5 linked regions of the Homo sapiens genome follow. The protein of the gene in region 1 purifies or fractionates together with the protein of each later gene. This does not show direct contact. Each region holds a gene or a part of one and is shown in the gene's direction. Other genes may lie near its edges.

Evidence for each region.
Region 2: the proteins of VWA3B (region 1) and ARG1 purify together in Homo sapiens (affinity purification with mass spectrometry; one large-scale study listed by BioGRID and IntAct). This does not show direct contact.
Region 3: the proteins of VWA3B (region 1) and INA purify together in Homo sapiens (affinity purification with mass spectrometry; one large-scale study listed by BioGRID and IntAct). This does not show direct contact.
Region 4: the proteins of VWA3B (region 1) and CTSH purify together in Homo sapiens (affinity purification with mass spectrometry; one large-scale study listed by BioGRID and IntAct). This does not show direct contact.
Region 5: the proteins of VWA3B (region 1) and SERPINA12 purify together in Homo sapiens (affinity purification with mass spectrometry; one large-scale study listed by BioGRID and IntAct). This does not show direct contact.

The regions. Positions count from the first base shown.
Region 1 is NC_000002.12:98,090,167-98,093,691, forward strand, and holds part of VWA3B (von Willebrand factor A domain-containing protein 3B), read left to right. Parts: intron 1-2,894; 5' UTR 2,895-2,926; coding exon 2,927-3,122; intron 3,123-3,525.
Region 2 is NC_000006.12:131,579,701-131,583,225, forward strand, and holds part of ARG1 (arginase-1), read left to right. Parts: intron 1-1,518; coding exon 1,519-1,678; intron 1,679-2,920; coding exon 2,921-3,015; intron 3,016-3,359; coding exon 3,360-3,464; intron 3,465-3,525. UniProt on the Homo sapiens protein: Key element of the urea cycle converting L-arginine to urea and L-ornithine, which is further metabolized into metabolites proline and polyamides that drive collagen synthesis and bioenergetic pathways critical for cell proliferation, respectively; the urea cycle takes place primarily in the liver and, to a lesser extent, in the kidneys.
Region 3 is NC_000010.11:103,283,625-103,287,149, forward strand, and holds part of INA (alpha-internexin), read left to right. Parts: intron 1-3,410; coding exon 3,411-3,525. UniProt on the Homo sapiens protein: Class-IV neuronal intermediate filament that is able to self-assemble. It is involved in the morphogenesis of neurons.
Region 4 is NC_000015.10:78,938,527-78,942,051, reverse strand, and holds part of CTSH (pro-cathepsin H isoform a preproprotein), read left to right. Parts: intron 1-2,880; coding exon 2,881-2,912; intron 2,913-3,525. UniProt on the Homo sapiens protein: Important for the overall degradation of proteins in lysosomes.
Region 5 is NC_000014.9:94,492,470-94,495,969, reverse strand, and holds part of SERPINA12 (serpin A12 precursor), read left to right. Parts: intron 1-3,500. UniProt on the Homo sapiens protein: Adipokine that modulates insulin action by specifically inhibiting its target protease KLK7 in white adipose tissues.

The DNA.
Region 1 (3,525 bases):
CTTGGAACAACTGACCAAATTTAAAAGACTTTCTTTCAGCTCCAGTCTTTGTGGATAGATCCTCAAAAACAAGTTGAGGCATATTAGTCTGCCCTTGTTTTCATGTTCTGTGATTCTAAACTTTCTAGCTCAGTATGATTGGAGACTTGGGGATAAAAAGTGCTTGGGATGAAAGTGGGTCTCATGAAACAAAATACAATGACTAAAGAACCATGACTTTTAGATCATTTATTTGCACATAGCTGTTTCCAACATATAAAGTGCTTATCCACGCATAACTTATACATCAGCACAGTTGTTCCTTGAATAGCCCTGGGAGTTAGGGTGTGCAGGTGGTATTACTATCCTAGAGAGGTGGAATCACCTTAAAGTGGCAGAATGGGCTTATACTGAGTTTTGATTCTAAACTTTTCCACTCCTACGTGATGCTCTCCAAGTAATATTGCAATATTCTCCTCAAATTGAGCCTTTGTAGAAAGAAAGCCAGATCTTCACCAATAATAATTTGTATACCTTTGCAACTCAACATATGTGGACAATACAAATTCACATAAACCTTGAAATGGAAATTATTATCTTTTTTTTTTTTTGAGACTGAGTCTCGCTAAAGACAAGTTCTTGCTCTGTTGCCCAGGCTGGAGTGCAGTGGTGCAATTAGAGCTCACTGCAACCTCGAACTCCTGGGCTCAAGCAATCCTCCTGCTGCAGCCTCTCGAGTAGCTGGGACTACAGGCATGCACCACCATGCCTGGCTAATTAAAAAAAAAAAATTAGTAGAGATGAGTCCTCCACTATGTTGGTCAGGGTAGTCTCGAACTCCTGGGCTCAAGCGATCTTCTCAACGTGCTGGGATTACAGGCATGAGCCACTGCACCCAGCCTCATTATCTTTAAAAGTTTGAGAGTGATAAGCCAAGAAGCTTATTGAGTCTGAGCTCTGAGAATAAAGATTAGCGTTCCGGATGAGGACCTAGGGCCCTACTAGAATGCAGTCCTACTGGAATGCAGATTGCCTTGTCCCATAAGACCTGGCTGGAGGAGGTTAATTGTAAAGATAGCAGAGTGGTTAAGAAATGGCTTTGACTCCTGCTTTTCTCACTGGCTGTGGCAGAACCTGTGAGCAAGTTCTTTAAATCCTCGAAGCTTGCGATTCCTCACATGTAAGTGGCGTGTTAATAATGAGTAACTGATATGGTATGAAGAAGCTGTGAGCTAGTGCGTATAAAAGGACCAACAAATGGAAGTTGTTGCATTGCTTCTATTACACTAAAGATCACAGAACACAGATCCTGGAGCTGAATGGCCTGGTTTAGAATCTTAACTCCACCCCTTACCAGTTGTAAGATTGTGGACAAGTTAATTAACCCCTCTCTGTCTTGGTTTCCTCATTTGTAAAATGAAAATAAGAGTAGTACCTACCTCATGAGGTTATAAGGATTAAATGTAAATTGCACATAACATGATGTTAAATAAGTGCTTGCTAATGATAATACTTCTAACTCCTTTTTATAAAACCTCCCTGACTTGGTCCAACTGATTTTTGTGTTTGACTGAATTTCCATGTCATGACAGTGAAACTTTTAGGAAATACAGTTAAAGTTTTAGAAATAGGGAAAGAACCTATTTTCATTGTTAAAAAGTTTTACAATTCAGGGTATCAGTTTACATGCATTGTGAATTCTGGATACAGAAGTAAGCAGAACTTTCTACACTTCCTCCAGGTCACCAGGCCCTGCCCATTTGTGGTGAGCGGGTTAAGATTGCATTATAGTTTGGCCCCATCCTTTCCTCTTGCATACACTAGCTATATTTAGGCAGGTCTAGCTAAGTTTAATATGTTGCATATGGCCTTGGGTCCAGTTGATCCCAGAACAGATGGCTACATGGGCCAGAATGCTTAAGTCCAATTGTAGAGCAAAGCCCCAGACAATAAAACATTCAGAAAGTGGATACATGTATTCCAGCTGGGCTGAGCTGTGGTCTGGTTCCCAACCGCCACCAGCTCCCAATTAGCCACTACACCTGTTCGACAGGTAAAAACCTGTCAGAGTTTTATCCTTCTCATCCTCATTGGGCACAAAATGTCAGGTGTGATTGTTATTGGAATACAGATGTGTAGTGAAGGTTCTGGGGCTAGTGTTTATTTTTTTCCAAAATGGAAGAGCTTTGCAGTTTTCTGATTATAAAAGTAAATTCCAGCTGGGCGCAGTGGCTCACGCCTGTAATCCCAACACTTTGGGAGGCCAAGGCGGGCGGATCACGAGGTCAGCAGTTCGAGACCAGCCTGACCAACATGGTGAAACCCCATTTCCACTAACAATACAAAAATTAGCTGGGCATGGTGGCACGCGCCTGTAATCCCAGCTACTCAGGAGGCTGAGGCAGCAGAATTGCTTGAACCTGGGAGGTGGAGGTTGCAGTGAGCCTAGATTGTGCCACTGCACTCCAGCCTGGGCAACAGAGCGAGACTCCTTCTCAAAAACAAATGAACAAAAAACAACAACAACAACAACAAAGTAAACCCCATTTTAGAAATATTCAAATAATGCAAAAATTTAAACAATATAGAAAAGGCAAAAACCACACATACTACCACCACACAGAGAAAACTACTCTAAACCTGTTACGGAATATCTTTCTAGATGTTTTTGTATATATATATATATATATATATATATATATATATATATATATAGTTGAATATTGAACTTTATGGATACCTCTTAGCAATTCATGTGACTGTCCTCTTTTCCACCAAATATACATGTATAATTTTAATTGATAAATAGCATTCCACTTCATGGGTGTACTATAATTTATGTTAAGCCAGTCCCCTGTTGACGTTAGATGATTTCCAAGTTTTTAGGAAGTCTGAGTTTATGATTGCCCTTACAGGAGTTTGCTGTGACTTAGATCTTGATTCAGAGATGGAGAAATCAGGCCCATCTTCTACCATCTCTGAGCAGCAGCTGCAGAGGCAAGAGGGATGGATTAACACCAAAACAGACTTGGCTGAGCAGAGTCTCATTTCATCTGAGAAATGGCTTCAACTGCATGGGCTTAAGAGCAACAAATTGACCTTGAAACAGATTTTGTCACAGATCGGATTCCCACATTGTGAAGGTACAGTACTCACAAACAACCAGCATGCTGCCATTTAGCCTTTGAGGTGGAGGTGGCTGCATCAGCTCTGAAGGCCCCTCAAAAACCACAGGTCTCTGAGCTTGCTTTGATCTTATATCCCTATCAGTAGAAAATGCTTGCACGTGTGCCCCCAATATATGTGTATTAAGTAGACGTACAATTGTCAATCCATGTATTAAATAATGCTTAATTTCATCCTTTCTTTTTTACTTTTTAAATTGACAGATAAAACTGTATGTATTTATCATGTACAACATGATGTTTTGAAGAATGTATACATTGTGAATGGCTGTATCTAGCTAATTAACAAATGCATTGCCTCATATAGTCATTTTTTGTGGTGAGAACACTTACCCACTCTTTCTGTGTTTTTCAAGAATGC
Region 2 (3,525 bases), on another chromosome or scaffold:
ACACACACACACAAGAAAAAAAATGTGGTAATTGTACTTCTCTAGCAACCATTTCAACCAGAATTGAAAATCTGGCACATTTCTTTCATGGCATCTTTTTTTTCCTTGTACATGATGACTTTGTTTAACGTGTGTGTGTGTGTGTATGTGTGTGTGTGAGAGAGAGAGAGAGAGAGACAGATGTCTATGTTGTGTTCTCACTCTACAGTGCAAATTTCCTTGTTGCTTCATGGGATGTGCATAAGCATCATAAGCATCAGTTTTTTAATTGCTGCATGATTTTTCATCAAGGGGTTACATCGCTATATACGTACATATTGCGGCATATTCAGGTTGCATTATAATTTTCACCATTACAAATAATGTGGCAAAGACCATTTTTGTGCATGAGCCTCTTTAAATATTTACTCCCAAGGCCTAGGATAATTTTACCAGAAAGGCCTGATTAGATCTAAAAGTAGAAACACTTCTATGGCTCTTGAGCAGTCAATGACTTCAGGTCTCCTTGGCTTCCTCTTCTAAAGCCAAACTGTCACCAAGGCCTCTGTATCAAAACTGCAATTGGGAAACTGAGGCTCGCTTTCTTTGTTAAGTGGAAATTTTAGGAATGGCACATGGCAAAAGACAAGAAACCTAAAGGGAAAACAAACGTCCACTGAATAATCCATACCTGAACGTTAAGGCATTATTGCTTCCACTTCGAGAATCTAAAAGCTCATGATTCTCTGAATGATACTTAAACATTCACAAATGGGAGAATACAGGCATTGTATAGTACTAGCTTGGTGCAAAAGTAATTGCAGTTTTTAAATGGCAAAACCGCAATACTTTTGCACCAACCTAATAAATCCTAACTTTTAACTTCTGTGCAAGATATCATTTATGTCTTCCATTCCAGCAAAATGTCTGGAGCTTGAAGTATTTGGGATGAACTTTGTTCCTGGTTGAGTGGGTAACTAGATGCATTGAATAGAATGAGTGAACACACGCCATACGCTGGCTGAAGAACTTGAGTAAGAACATGTAAGAACTTCTGAGTGATGCTCTCAAATTATAAAAGCTGGATTTTAAGAAAAATTGAAAGACTTTGTCATAATTCACTTGAGAGAATTAAGTATTTACCAAGAGAGATGAGTGTACAGAAAATGATCCAAATTTAACTCTGAGAATTGAACAGTGTCTCATGCTAAGGAATTTCTTGTGTGGCTAGTATTTTTATACTCATTTATTTTTTTGGCTACGCTCTAATCGTGGTTTTCTTACAAGGTGGATTTTGGGAAAAAAAATCACAGTTTTTTTAGTAATGCAATCGATGTAAATATAACTAGTTAGTGAGCATTAAGTGTAAGTTATGCTTTCTCTATTGTTTTAACTAATTGGCATCTCCAATTCAGAACCTATCAGAAATATCAGACACTGTGACTCAAAGGAAAACCAAGTGGGAGCATTGAGTGAATAATATGATGTATGTAGTGACACTGCAAACCTGATGTTCACACAAAATTTTTTCCCCAAAAGTTTGGCAATTGGAAGCATCTCTGGCCATGCCAGGGTCCACCCTGATCTTGGAGTCATCTGGGTGGATGCTCACACTGATATCAACACTCCACTGACAACCACAAGTGGAAACTTGCATGGACAACCTGTATCTTTCCTCCTGAAGGAACTAAAAGGAAAGGTAAAAGACTGGTTGGTACTCTAGTGCAATAGAATACTTTTTAGTAGACATTCAGGAGGTGGAAGGGAAATGAGAAACTCCATGTTATCTTATTCTTGGTGTAATCTCAAATCATTTTCTCTGCAGCCAATAAGCAAAGGGTTGGTTGATAAAAGGCAGTGAGGCTCTCTATCTCTGCCTTGCAAACTGACTTAATATATATTTTCTCTGCTAATTCTTAAACTATCCTTTTAGTAGGTGGGGCAGAGAGTAATCATTTATAAACAGGTCAGTGGAGGTTCAGAGGTTAACCAACTTGCCCAAGATATATGCCAAGCCTATAGTGAAGCAAGGGCTAGCACCAGGTCTCCTCATTCCTTCCTCTTTCCACTACATGCCACACAGTTCTGCATTCTTACTGAGTAGTCCTTCTATATCATAGAGGCTTTTCAAAAAAGAAATTTTAAAATTTCAGATATAATGGTTTATGAACTAATGTATTTACTGGGAGAAGCACCTATCTAAATCATAAGAGAAAGAACTATCTCCCTGCTCCCTAGAAACTCCTTTTCTAAAAGATGGAAAATAAAATGGCAGATTAAGATTTAATATTACAGCTTATAACTTTGTTGATATGCCATAGTTTGTTGATATGCCATAGTATATCAATAAAAAGTTTTTATTGATACAATTATAATATTTGGTCCTTATGATGATACAAGAGGTTAAAACCTCCTTATGTTAAATGCTCAGAAATAATGTCTTTTGAACTAATGACCAAGGGATGGGTTTATAAACTTGCAAAGTATCTGCCTAGTACATGGGAAAAACTAAACGTCCTGGAGGACAAAGCAGATATCATCATATTATCACATTAAGAATAACCAAAGGACAGGCCACAAATTTCCCTCAGCTGCTCTAGGCCATCCTCTGGATTAAGGACTTACTGAGAAAGGGAAGTAAAGAAGGAAGCTACCAAAGTAATGGGAGCACAATCGTTTCTTTATAGAGGAGCCCTGGGAAAGAAGGGCCCAGCAGGACTGGGGCACAAAGTAGGTAAATGCCAACTGGTTCAAGGCAAAGTCAAAGCAATCAAGGGGAGGCACACATCCTCTTCTTAATTGTGTATTATTTTTACATGATTTCTTCTGTATTTATATTCTAAATATAAGATATACGCAATCCAATATGTGTCTTTACCTTTGAATGTAGGATTTGTTCAAGAGAATCATACATAACCAAGTGAAAACATTGTAATTTTAGATTCCCGATGTGCCAGGATTCTCCTGGGTGACTCCCTGTATATCTGCCAAGGATATTGTGTATATTGGCTTGAGAGACGTGGACCCTGGGGAACAGTAAGCTTATTCCTTGATGTGATTTGCCTCCATTTTTGTCCCTTTGTGTGCTAGATATGCTTTACTGACCAACTCTATGAGAGAAAATTAAACATCAAGACACACACACACACACATGCCCACACACATATATTTATATACATGTACATACATATGTATGTATCCAGGCAATTAAATCTCAATTGACTTGCTGTTAAAAATAAATACAAATAAAACTATATTGAGTTAGGTTCATAGAACCTAAATGTTTTATATATTTTACTATATTTATATTTCCCTTAAAAGGAGACAGGCGGGCACAGTCAGCCTTATTAATTATAATTATCTTAATTTCTCTTTTATAGCTACATTTTGAAAACTCTAGGCATTAAATACTTTTCAATGACTGAAGTGGACAGACTAGGAATTGGCAAGGTGATGGAAGAAACACTCAGCTATCTACTAGGAAGGTAGGATTCTTTTGTGTGTGCACACATGTGTGTGCAACAGAAAAGGTTGCTACTGACAACC
Region 3 (3,525 bases), on another chromosome or scaffold:
CCCCCTGATGTCTCAGCCCTACCTTTCACCATTGCTTTATCATTCTCACACAAGGGGAGTTTCAAGGGCCTGTCAACACTTACTTTCTTGAGGTTTCTGATATGTTTATCTGCATCACTGTTTCTTTTTTTTTTTTTTTTTTTGAGATGGAGTTTTGCTCTTGTTGCCCAGGCTGGAGTGCAATGGCACGATCTCAGCTCACTGCAACCTCTGCCTCCCAGGTTCAAGTGATTCTCCTACCTCAGCCTCCAGAGTAGCTGGGATTACAGGCACACGCCACCACGCCCAGCTAATTTTTGTATTTTTAGTAGAGACCATAGTTTCACCATGTTGGCCAGCATAGTCTCAGTCTCTTGATTGACCTGAACTCCTGACCTCAGGTGATCCACCCGCCTCAGCCTCCCAAAGTGCTGGGATTACAGGCATGAGCCACCATGCCCGGCCCTGCATGACTGTTTCTTAAAAATAACCCCCAATCATTGTGTCTTTTTTTTTTTTTTTAAGACGGGGTCTTGCTGTGTCGCCCAGGCTGGAGCACAGTGGCGCCATCATAGCTCACTTCAACCTCCGCCTACCGGGCTCGAGCAATTCTCTCAGCTCAGCCTCAAGTGATTCGCCTGCCTCAGCTACCCAAAGTGCTGGGATGCCCTAGAGATGTTTTCTTGTTATCGCAACTGGGAGAGGGAAGTATGTGCTTCTGGCATCTAGCCAGGGATGTTACTAAATATCCCGCATTTCACAATAACAAATAATTAGCCAGCCTAAAACATCAACACTGCCAAAGTTGTAAAACTCTGTTATAGAGGAAAGCAACAGAAAATAAACTAGTATAAACCAGTAAATTGCCGGGGCCGGACACTGTGACTCATGCCTGTTATCCCAGCACTTTGGGAGGCTGAGGCGGGCGGATCACGAGGTTAGGAGTTCAAGACCAGCCTGGCCAACATGGTGAAACCCCATCTCTACTAAAAATACAAAAATTAGCCAGGTGTGGTGGTGCACACCTGTAATCCCAGCTACTCAGGAGGCTGAGGCAGGAGAATTACTTGAACCCAGGTGGTGGAGGTTGCAGTGAGCTGAGATTGCGCCACTGCACTCCAGCCTGGGTAACAGAGCAAGACTCCATCTCGGAAAAAAAAAAAAAGAAGAAGATAATTTCATATAATGGTAAGAGCTGAGAGCAGGGTGGCTGCATTCAACTGAGTGCTTTTTTTCTAATTTGCACAAGGTTCCTGCATGGGCCAGTAGCTGCTCTGGCTTAAGGTAAAATAAAGTGCTGGGTTGGTCGAGGATGGATACTTAAATTGGATGCAAATGAAGACCTGTCTGAGGAGAGGACATTATATTTTATTTTATTTTATTTTATTTTATTTTTTGAGATGGAGTTTCATTCTTGTTGTCCAGGCTGGAGTGCAATGGCACGATCTCGGCTCACTGCAACCTCCGCCTCCCAGATTCAAACAATTCTCCTGCTTCAGCCTCCCTAGTAGCTGGGATTATAGGCATGCACCACCACGCCCGGCTAATTTTTGTATTTTTAGTAGAGACAGAGTTTCTCCATATTGGTCTGGCTGGTCTCGAACTCCCAACCCCAGGTGATCCTCCCGCCTCAGCCTCCCAAAGTGCTGGGATTACAGGCATGAGCCATCGTGCCTGGCAGGAGAGGACATTTGAACTGAATCTTTTTTGAGACAGAGTTTTGCTCTTGTTGCCCAAGCTGGAGTGCGGTGGTACGATCTCAGCTCACTGCAACCTCTGCCTTCCAGATTCAAGCGATTCTCCTGCCTCAGCCTCCCAAGTAGGTGGGATTACAGGCGCTTGCCACTGCACACAGCTAATTTTTGTACTTTTAGTAGAGACGGGGTTTCTCCTTGTTGGTCTGGCTGGTCTCGAACTCCCGACTCCAGGTGATCCTCCTACCTCAGCCTCCCAAAGTGCTGGGATTACAGGCATGAGCCATCATGCCTGGCAGGAGAGGACATTTGAACTGAATCTTTTTTTTTTTTTTTTTGAGATGGAGTTTCGCTCTTGTTGCCCAGCTGGAATGCAGTGGCGCGATCTCGTCTCACTGCAACCTCCCCCTCCTGGGTTCAAGCGATTCTCCTGCCTCAGCCTCCCAAGTAGCTGGGATTACAGGTGCATGCCACTGCACCCAGCTAATTTTTGTATTTTTAGTAGAGACGGAGTTTTGCCATGTTAGCCAGGCTAGTCTTGAACTCCTGATCTCAGGTGATCTGCCTGCCTCAGCCTCCCAAAGTGCTAGGATTACAGGTGTGAGCCACCACACCCGGGTGAACTGAATCTTCTATGACAAGGAGTCGGCCATGTAAAGACCGGCATTTTAGATAGAGGAAATAACAAGCCTGAAGGGCCTGGGACAGCAATGAACTTGGTATAGTTAAGGAGTAAAAGAAAAGACCAGGCTGGGCATGGTGGCTCATACATGTAATCTAAGCACTTTAGGAGGTAAAGGCAGGAGTGTCTCTTGAGGCCAGGAGTTCAAGACCAGCCTGGACAACATAATGAGACCTCATCTTTACAAAACAAAAATCTTTTTTAACTAGCCAGGCATGGTAGTGTACACCTGTTAGTCCCAACTGCTTGGGAGGCTGAGACAGGAAGATCGCTTGAGCCCAGGAATTTTGAGGCTGCAGTGAGCTGTGATCACACCACTGTACTCCAGCCTAGGCAACAGAGCAAGACCTTGTCTCAAAAAAAAAAAAAAAAAAAAAAAAAGAATTCCTTCTGGCTGCTCAAGGACTATAAATATATAAATATAAAGCGATTTCTCTTCCATGCCTCGGTGTTTTAAAAATTCTGTGGAGTATTTCTGCTTTCTCCTTACCTATAATGTAAAATGCTCTCAGTAAAGTGACTGATTAGCAGGCTTCTAGGAAATCATCAAAATGAATGGAGGCAGAGAGGTCTTCCTGGAAAGCTCTCTGTGCTTTCCACATTCGGAATTTTCTGAATCTAAGCTGCTAACCTGAGGCTTTGGGTTTTGGAAAGCACATGCTACAACAGAGTTATTTAGCAGCAACACAACAAGCAAGGGAGGGATGGTAAGTGTAAAAAAAAAAAAAATCATCTCCATGTTCAGTTCAGAACTATATGCCGTGTGGCTATCCTGAAAAGGGCAGGTGTTCACTTGCCCTCTGGGTAAAAGTTCCCAGTCCTCACCATGAGTCCAAATCTCCTGGGGACCTTTATGAAAAAAATGCAAATGCTGGGACCCCACCCCAGAACCAGTGAATCTGGATCTGGACTCAGGGACAGACCTGGATATAAGCAAGTTATAAGTTCATTAGATGATTTTAATGTGTAGTCAGGGCTGGGAATCCTTGCCTTCTGGAAATCTTGAGGAATTTCAGCTGGTTTGGCCTAACTATTTTGGATATGTTACTTTTCAGGATAGCATTGGGCAGCTGGAGAATGATCTGAGGAACACCAAGAGTGAGATGGCACGCCACCTTCGGGAATACCAGGACTTGCTCAATGTCAAAATGGCTCTTGACATTGAGATAG
Region 4 (3,525 bases), on another chromosome or scaffold:
AAAATAAGACCAGAATTAATGCTGAACCTTTTCTCAACCAAACAATATTCACTCATGAAAATATAAATCCATTGCGGGGGATGGGCAGTAGAGTACTGTTTATCACATTAAGAGATGCATTTCTGATACAATTTTACTTTTGATGTTTAACAATTACTTTTCATAATGTATAATACATTTGAAATGTTTTAATCAGTTGGGACACTAATAATAATTATGATTACTCAATCCAGAATAAATTTTTTTTTTTTTTTTTGAGACGGAGTCTCATTCTGTCGCCCAGGCTGGAGTGCAGTGGCGTGATCTCGGCTCACTGCAAGCCCCGCCTCCCGGGTTCACGCCATTCTCCTGCCTCAGCCTCCTGAGTAGCTGGGACTGCAGGCGCCCGCCACCACGCCCGGCTAATTTGTTTTTTGTATTTTTAGTAGAGTTGGGGTTTCACCGTGTTAGCCAGGATGGTCTCGATCTTCTGAACTCGTGATCCGCCCGTCTCAGCCTCTCAAAGTGCTGGGATTACAGGCATGAGCCACCGCGCCCAGCTCCAGAATAAATTTTTATAATATTCACAGATGTATGGGTCACAGGTAGTAAAAACATTTAATTTTTTTTTTTTTTTTTTTTTTTTTTTTAGACAGAGTCTCGCTTTGTCGCCCAGGCTGGAGTGCAGTGGCACGATCTTGGCTACTGCAACCTCTGCCTCCCAGGTTCAAGCAATTCTTCTGCCTCAGCCTCCCAAGTAGCTGGGACTACAGGTGCATGCCACCACGTCTGGCTTATTTTTGTATTTTTAGTAGAGATGAGGTTTCACCATGTTGGCCAGGCTGGTCTCAAACTCCTGACCTCATGATCCACCTGCCTCAGCCTCCCAAAGTGCTGGGATTACAGGCATGAGCCACGGCGCCCAGCCAAAATAAATAATTTAAATTTAAACTTTTTGTTGTTGTTGCAGAAAAGAATGTGAAGGTGATCAAGCATAAAAATGTATGTTCCCTTAGGATAAAATTCTGCCAGGTGGGGATGGAGATAGGTGTTCAACAAGAAAAAGAAACTCTGTATAATATCTGACTCTTTTTTGTTTTGTTTTCTTTATTTGAGATGGAGTTTCGCTCTTGTCACCCAGGCTGGGGTGCAGTGGCACAATCTCGGCTCACAGCAGCCTCCGCCTCTCAGGTTCAAGCGATCCTCCTGCCTCAGCCTCCTGAGTAGCTGGGATTACAGGCGCCTGCCACCATGCCCAGCTAATTTTTGTATTTTTAGTGGAGCTGGGGTTTTGCCATGTTGGCCAAGTTGGTCATGAGCTCCTGACCTCAGGTGATCTGCCCACCTTGGCCTCCCAAAGTGCTGGGATTACAGGCGTGAGCCACCACACCCCGCCTAAATACCTGACTCTTATAGAAAAGTTTGTTCATGTTACTGATGGTGGATATCAAATCATCATGGTATTTAGATTCCACTGGCTAGCTTTAAAAGAATGATATAACAATCTTATTTTTAGAGATTTTTTTTTTTTTTTTGAGACAAGGTCTCACTCCTGTCACCCAGGCAGGAATGCAGTGGCGCTATCATAGCTCATTGCAGCCTCAACCTCCCAGGCTCAAGTGATTCTCCCGTCTAATTTTTTTTATTTTTTTGTAGAGACGAGGTCTCACTTTGTTGCCCAGACTGGTCCCAAACTCCTAGGCTCAAGGGATTCGCCTGTGTCAGCCTCCCAAAGTACTGAGATTATAGGCTTGGGCCACACTGCCAGGTGTTATTTTTAAATCTCAATATTTATAAGTTGGAATATGTCTTTGGAGGTATTCAAATTTAAAATGAAATGTTTAGATAAGAACATACATGGGGAAATACGGCAGGAATCCAAAAACAAATGGCTGGCCTGCTTTTGTAAAATATTTTGTCTTGTTTGTTTTATTATGTTTTTGATAATATCTGTACATATTTGGGGGTACATGTGAGGTTTCGTTTTTGTGAAGTCTTGCGGGAACGCAGTCCTACCCATTAATGTTCACAGTCTCTGTGGCTGTCTCTGAGCCGCAGGGGCAGAGTTGAGTAGTTGTGGCAGAAACCATATAGATGGCAAAGCCTGAAATATTTACTACCTGTCCCCATAAGGAAAAACAGTGCTTGCCCTTGGAATAGATAGGTTTGTTTTTTGTTGTTGTTGTTTTTGAGACGGAGTCTCTCTCTGTCGCCCAGGCTGGAGTGCAGTGGCACGATCTCGGCTCACTGCAACCTCCGCCTCCCGGGTTCAAGCGATTCTCCTCAGCCTCCCGAGTAGCTGGGATTACAGGCACACACCACCATACCCAGCTGATTTTTATATTTTTGTGGAGACAGGGTTTCGCCATGTTGGCCAAGCTGGTCTTGAACCCCTGACCTCAGGCAATCGGCCCACCTCGGCCTCCCAAAGTGCTGGGATTACAGGCATGAGCCACCGCGCCCAGCTGGAGTAGATAGCTTTTTAAATTAACTTCTTACCGAAATATAACTTCATACAGAAAGGGGCACAAATCATTGAGTATGCATTTCCACGAATTTTCTCAATCTAAACACACTCAGTTAACCAGCGCCCAGTTGAAGAAACAGGATATGAGCAGCATCCCGGAAGTGCTTTCTGCACCCCGACCCAGTAGGCATAACCACCATCCTGACTTTCAACACCATTGACTAATAGTATATACTTTTTCACATTAATTTGGGGTACAAAACCAGGAAGAGTCGGAGTTTCTTTTTGCATTCTGCATTATATAACACCATTTTTGGTGTTTTAAATTTAGTCCAGTTTTCGAAAATGCAAATCAGTTCTAAAGTGCCCTACTTTGCTATAGACTCAACATTACTGTGATGCGCCCAGACCTAATTTTTTTTTTCTTTTTACAGAGAAGTTTCACTTCAAGTCATGGATGTCTAAGGTCAGTGCCCAACTTCTTCTTTTTGAAGTTTTTCATTTCACAAAGTTTCCTGTTATCAAACCAAACTGTCCCAGATTTGAGACAATGAAAAAGGGAATTTCCAACTTTGCCTAGTGGGGTCTTTCCAGAAGTTGAACTGGCCAAACACTGGGAAAGATGCAGTTAAGTAAATTCCTTCCAAATAGTGGTCCCAAGTGATTAACTTGGCTGACAGCCTTCCAAGCCCTGGGATTCATTTCTGTATTTTGTTTTCAAAGCACATTGTGGAGAATGTAAATTAGTACAACCATTGTAAAAAAAACAGTATGGAGGTTCCATCAAAAACTCAAAACAAAACTACCATATGACCCAGCAAGCCTACTACTGAGTATATATCCAAAAGAAAGGAAATTAGTATATTGGAGGGATATCTGCACCCTCATGTTTATTGCAGAACTAGTCACAATAGCCAAGATATGGAATCAACCTAAGTGCCTATCAATGGGTAAAGCAAATGTGGTGTATGTACACAATGGAATATTATTCAGCCATAACAAAGAATGAAATTCTGTCATTTGCAGCAACATGGATGGAACTGGAGGTCATTATGTTTAGTGAAATAAGCCAAGCATAG
Region 5 (3,500 bases), on another chromosome or scaffold:
CAACAAAACCCATGAAGTATCCAAAGTAAGTTATACAAATAATAGTTGAAGAATAAAAGAGAGTAAATATTTTTCTTTTTAAAACATAAACTGATATTAGATTAATGCTAAGCCTACAGAATTCCTCCCAGGCACTTGCTTACTGATAGATTTTGGGGGAAAAGGTAAGAGTTGGTGTTGGGTTTAAGTCTTGGGGACTTAGTGTCAGCGTGGACATACATAGTGCCTTGAAAGTGGCTGGGCTAGTGGCCTCTAGTAGCCAGAGCAGTGAAGGGGATGTAGCAGAGTGGGCAGTTTCCACTTGGACAGGTGTCAGATGTCCTCTTCTCTGTTCTCTTTCCCTCTTCCACCTTGTCCCTGTCATCATTCCCCATGCATCTCCATAAAGGTATTTACTAAGAACCTCTGCCACACCTAACGTCCTGTCAGGCACCAAGGACGGTACCAAGAGAGGTACAGATGATGCTAGGACTGAGCTTAGTAACCCATGGGTGGTAACTGAACTGATGCAACTCTTTTCATGCAGAACACTGTCTTGGAGGCATTCCAGAATGCATCTCTTATATCTAGAGTGAGCTGCAGACTTAAGAAAGGGAAATTCTGGCCGGGCGCGGTGGCTCACGCCTGTAATCCCAGCACTTTGGGAGGCCGAGGCGGGCGGATCACGAGGTCAGGAGATCGAGACCATCCCGGCTAAAACGGTGAAACCCTGTCTCTACTAAAAATACAAAAAATTAGCCGGGCGTAGTGGCGGGCGCCTGTAGTCCCAGCTACTTGGGAGGCTGAGGCAGGAGAATGGCATGAACCCGGGAGGCGGAGCTTGCAGTGAGCCGAGATCCCGCCACTGCACTCCAGCCTGGGCGACAGAGCGAGACTCCATCTCAAAAAAAAAAAAAAAAAAAAAAGAAAGGGAAATTCTGATTCCGAATGCTTCCAATTAAGTCATGGTACTGGGATGGAGGAGCCAAGTAGCAGAGCATCCCAAGAGCGTTGCCATCCCTTGAGATCTGCATAGTCTCACCTGCCCTTCCCACTGGGAACCAGGGAGGTGGAAGGGTTGGCAGAGTCTGGCCACTGAAACAAAAGGAGGGGTCCAGGTTACAACCTTTAGCTGAGACCTGGTCTTCTCATCTATGGTGTGTGGCCATAATATCGCCAACACCACAGTACTCTTGAGAGAATTAAATGTGCCTTAGCACAGCATTGCCCCACAGAAAACATATCCAAATGCAAATTCCTCTTTCCTTCCCATTGTCTAAAGAGGCAGAGCTCCAAGGTTCTCAGCAGAACTTTTGAACTTCTGGTTTATTGAATGACAGGTGTCCTGCAAATCTGACCCTCTTACCCTCAGGTTGAAGCCCTAGGGTGGCTGCTCTTCCACTGCAGAAGATGTTCCCAGTGGGAGGGGCGGGTGAGGCTGTGCAGATCTCGAGGGATGGCAGCGCTCTTGGAATGCCCTGTCACTTAGCTCCCCCCTTCCATAAATGTGACTTTATTGAAAGCATTCAGAACCAGAATTTTCCTTTCTCAAGCCTGCAGCTCACTCTAGATATCAGAGATGCATTCTGCAATGCCTCCAAGCCATGTTCCGTGTGAAAGGAGTCACATCAGTTCAGTTCAGTTACCACCCACGGGTTCCCCCATGTTGTCTCAACATGGGGACATCCCCAAAGGGACTGACGTGTTTCAGCCTGCACTCTACAGATTTTTAGAGTTCACAGAGATGTCTTGAGAGATCTCCCTAGGGAACTGGGGGGTGTAGAACATGAAGAGAAGGTAAGAAATGGGAGGGATGCCAGGTCTTCCACCCCACTTCATCCAGAAGTCTGGCTTTGTGAGACATGGACTCCAGAATATGACATTTCCCGTAGGACTCAAATTACAGTGGCTTGAGACTCTGCAGTTGATTTGCTGGAACTCACTGTCCTGAGTGCACTCCACCCCTATCTCCAAGCCATGTCTGACAATTTCTCCATGGGGCTACAGCTCAGGTGCTACACTGGGGGCTTCACATTCCCCTCACTGAGGCCCTCTGCAGCCCCTGGTGCTGTGACCACCATCAGGCCACCACCAACCACACAGATGTTCCCTGGGCACTGCCACCATCTCTCTGGCTTCAGGCTTCATCTCCTTTTGCACCTTTACACAAGAGTGAAATAGAACCTTTGAGATTTTCTGTAGGCTAGTGCCAGACTTCCTGGAGGTTTGGGAATAACAGAACCAAAGCTCCTCACAGGGACCCAGGATAACTTACAGCGCACAGAAGCGGCGTCTTGTGAAGTCCAAGTGTAAGCTGCTCTCAGTGGCGTCTCGTGAAGTCCAAGTGTAGAGTGTAGGCTGCTCTCAGTGGTGTCTTGTGGAGTCCAGGTGTAAAGTGCAGGCTGCTCTCAGTGGCGTCTTGTGAAGTCCAAGTGTAGGCTGCTCTCAGCATCTCTTCCAGGGCACCTCCTTCCATTTTTCTAGTGCCTGGTCTGCCTCCCCCATCCCTCTGGGACTGCTTTCCGCATCTCCTTGACTTGAGGCCAGGCCTCCCCACCAGGAGGGCCATAGAAAGGAAGGTTCCTCTCACCCCAGGGATGTCTTGCCTACCCAGTCACTTCTGGCCTTGGAATGACAGACAGGGTATTGTCCACCTTCCCGAGAAGAAACTCCAAATCCTCTTGCAGGACAGGGGGCTTGCTCACCGTCCCCAGGGAATTACATTTCATTAGAACATGATAGGAACAAACATTCCTACCTTCTGAGCTCATTATTTCTGGGAGATAAGTGGTCAAGTTGCTTTGATCTACAGGTGGGAAGCCTAGTCCAGAGAGCTCAGTGGCCCGCTATGGGAGAGCAGAGGTGGACGGGCTATCCCTATGCATTCTTTCTGCAGTCCTCTCCAGACTGGAGGGCCTAGAAGACACTGAGCAGAAAAATCACCTTTTCCCTAAAAGAAGTAACCAAGTCAACAGACACACACCAACTTACATGTGTGTAGAACATGTCAGAATTTAGGCTTCGGATGACTTCCACCTGGCCTCTGTGCAGGAGGCAGACACCTGCTTTGGATTTGCATAATTTGAGGCCAGGTGCTGCTCTGATTTCCCCAGAGGAAAAGCTCTGTTTCCCAGGGTCCACCTTTAGGAGCAGAAAACTGCTGGTGGCTTTGAAATAGCCATTGTCCTGTTCAGAAGTGTCGAGGGTCCACTCCCAGCCTGGGTGCCCCCCACACATTTCCGTACATATTGGTATATGCACTCACCTGTCAGCACAGCTGCACTTAGTGCCTTCCCACGTTGGCACAAACTAAAGCCGATCTCCTCATTTACGCACTGGACCTACGGCCCCCTGCTACTCAGGAACATCACCCTAGAAATCCTCTCCTCACTTTCCTACATCAGCATATGTTTTTCTCTCTTCTGAATCATTTCCATCAGATACAAAGATGCCCTTATCTTTCCTATCATGAAACCTCGCAGGGGGCCAGGGAAAACTTACAGCTCATAGAAGTGGCTTCT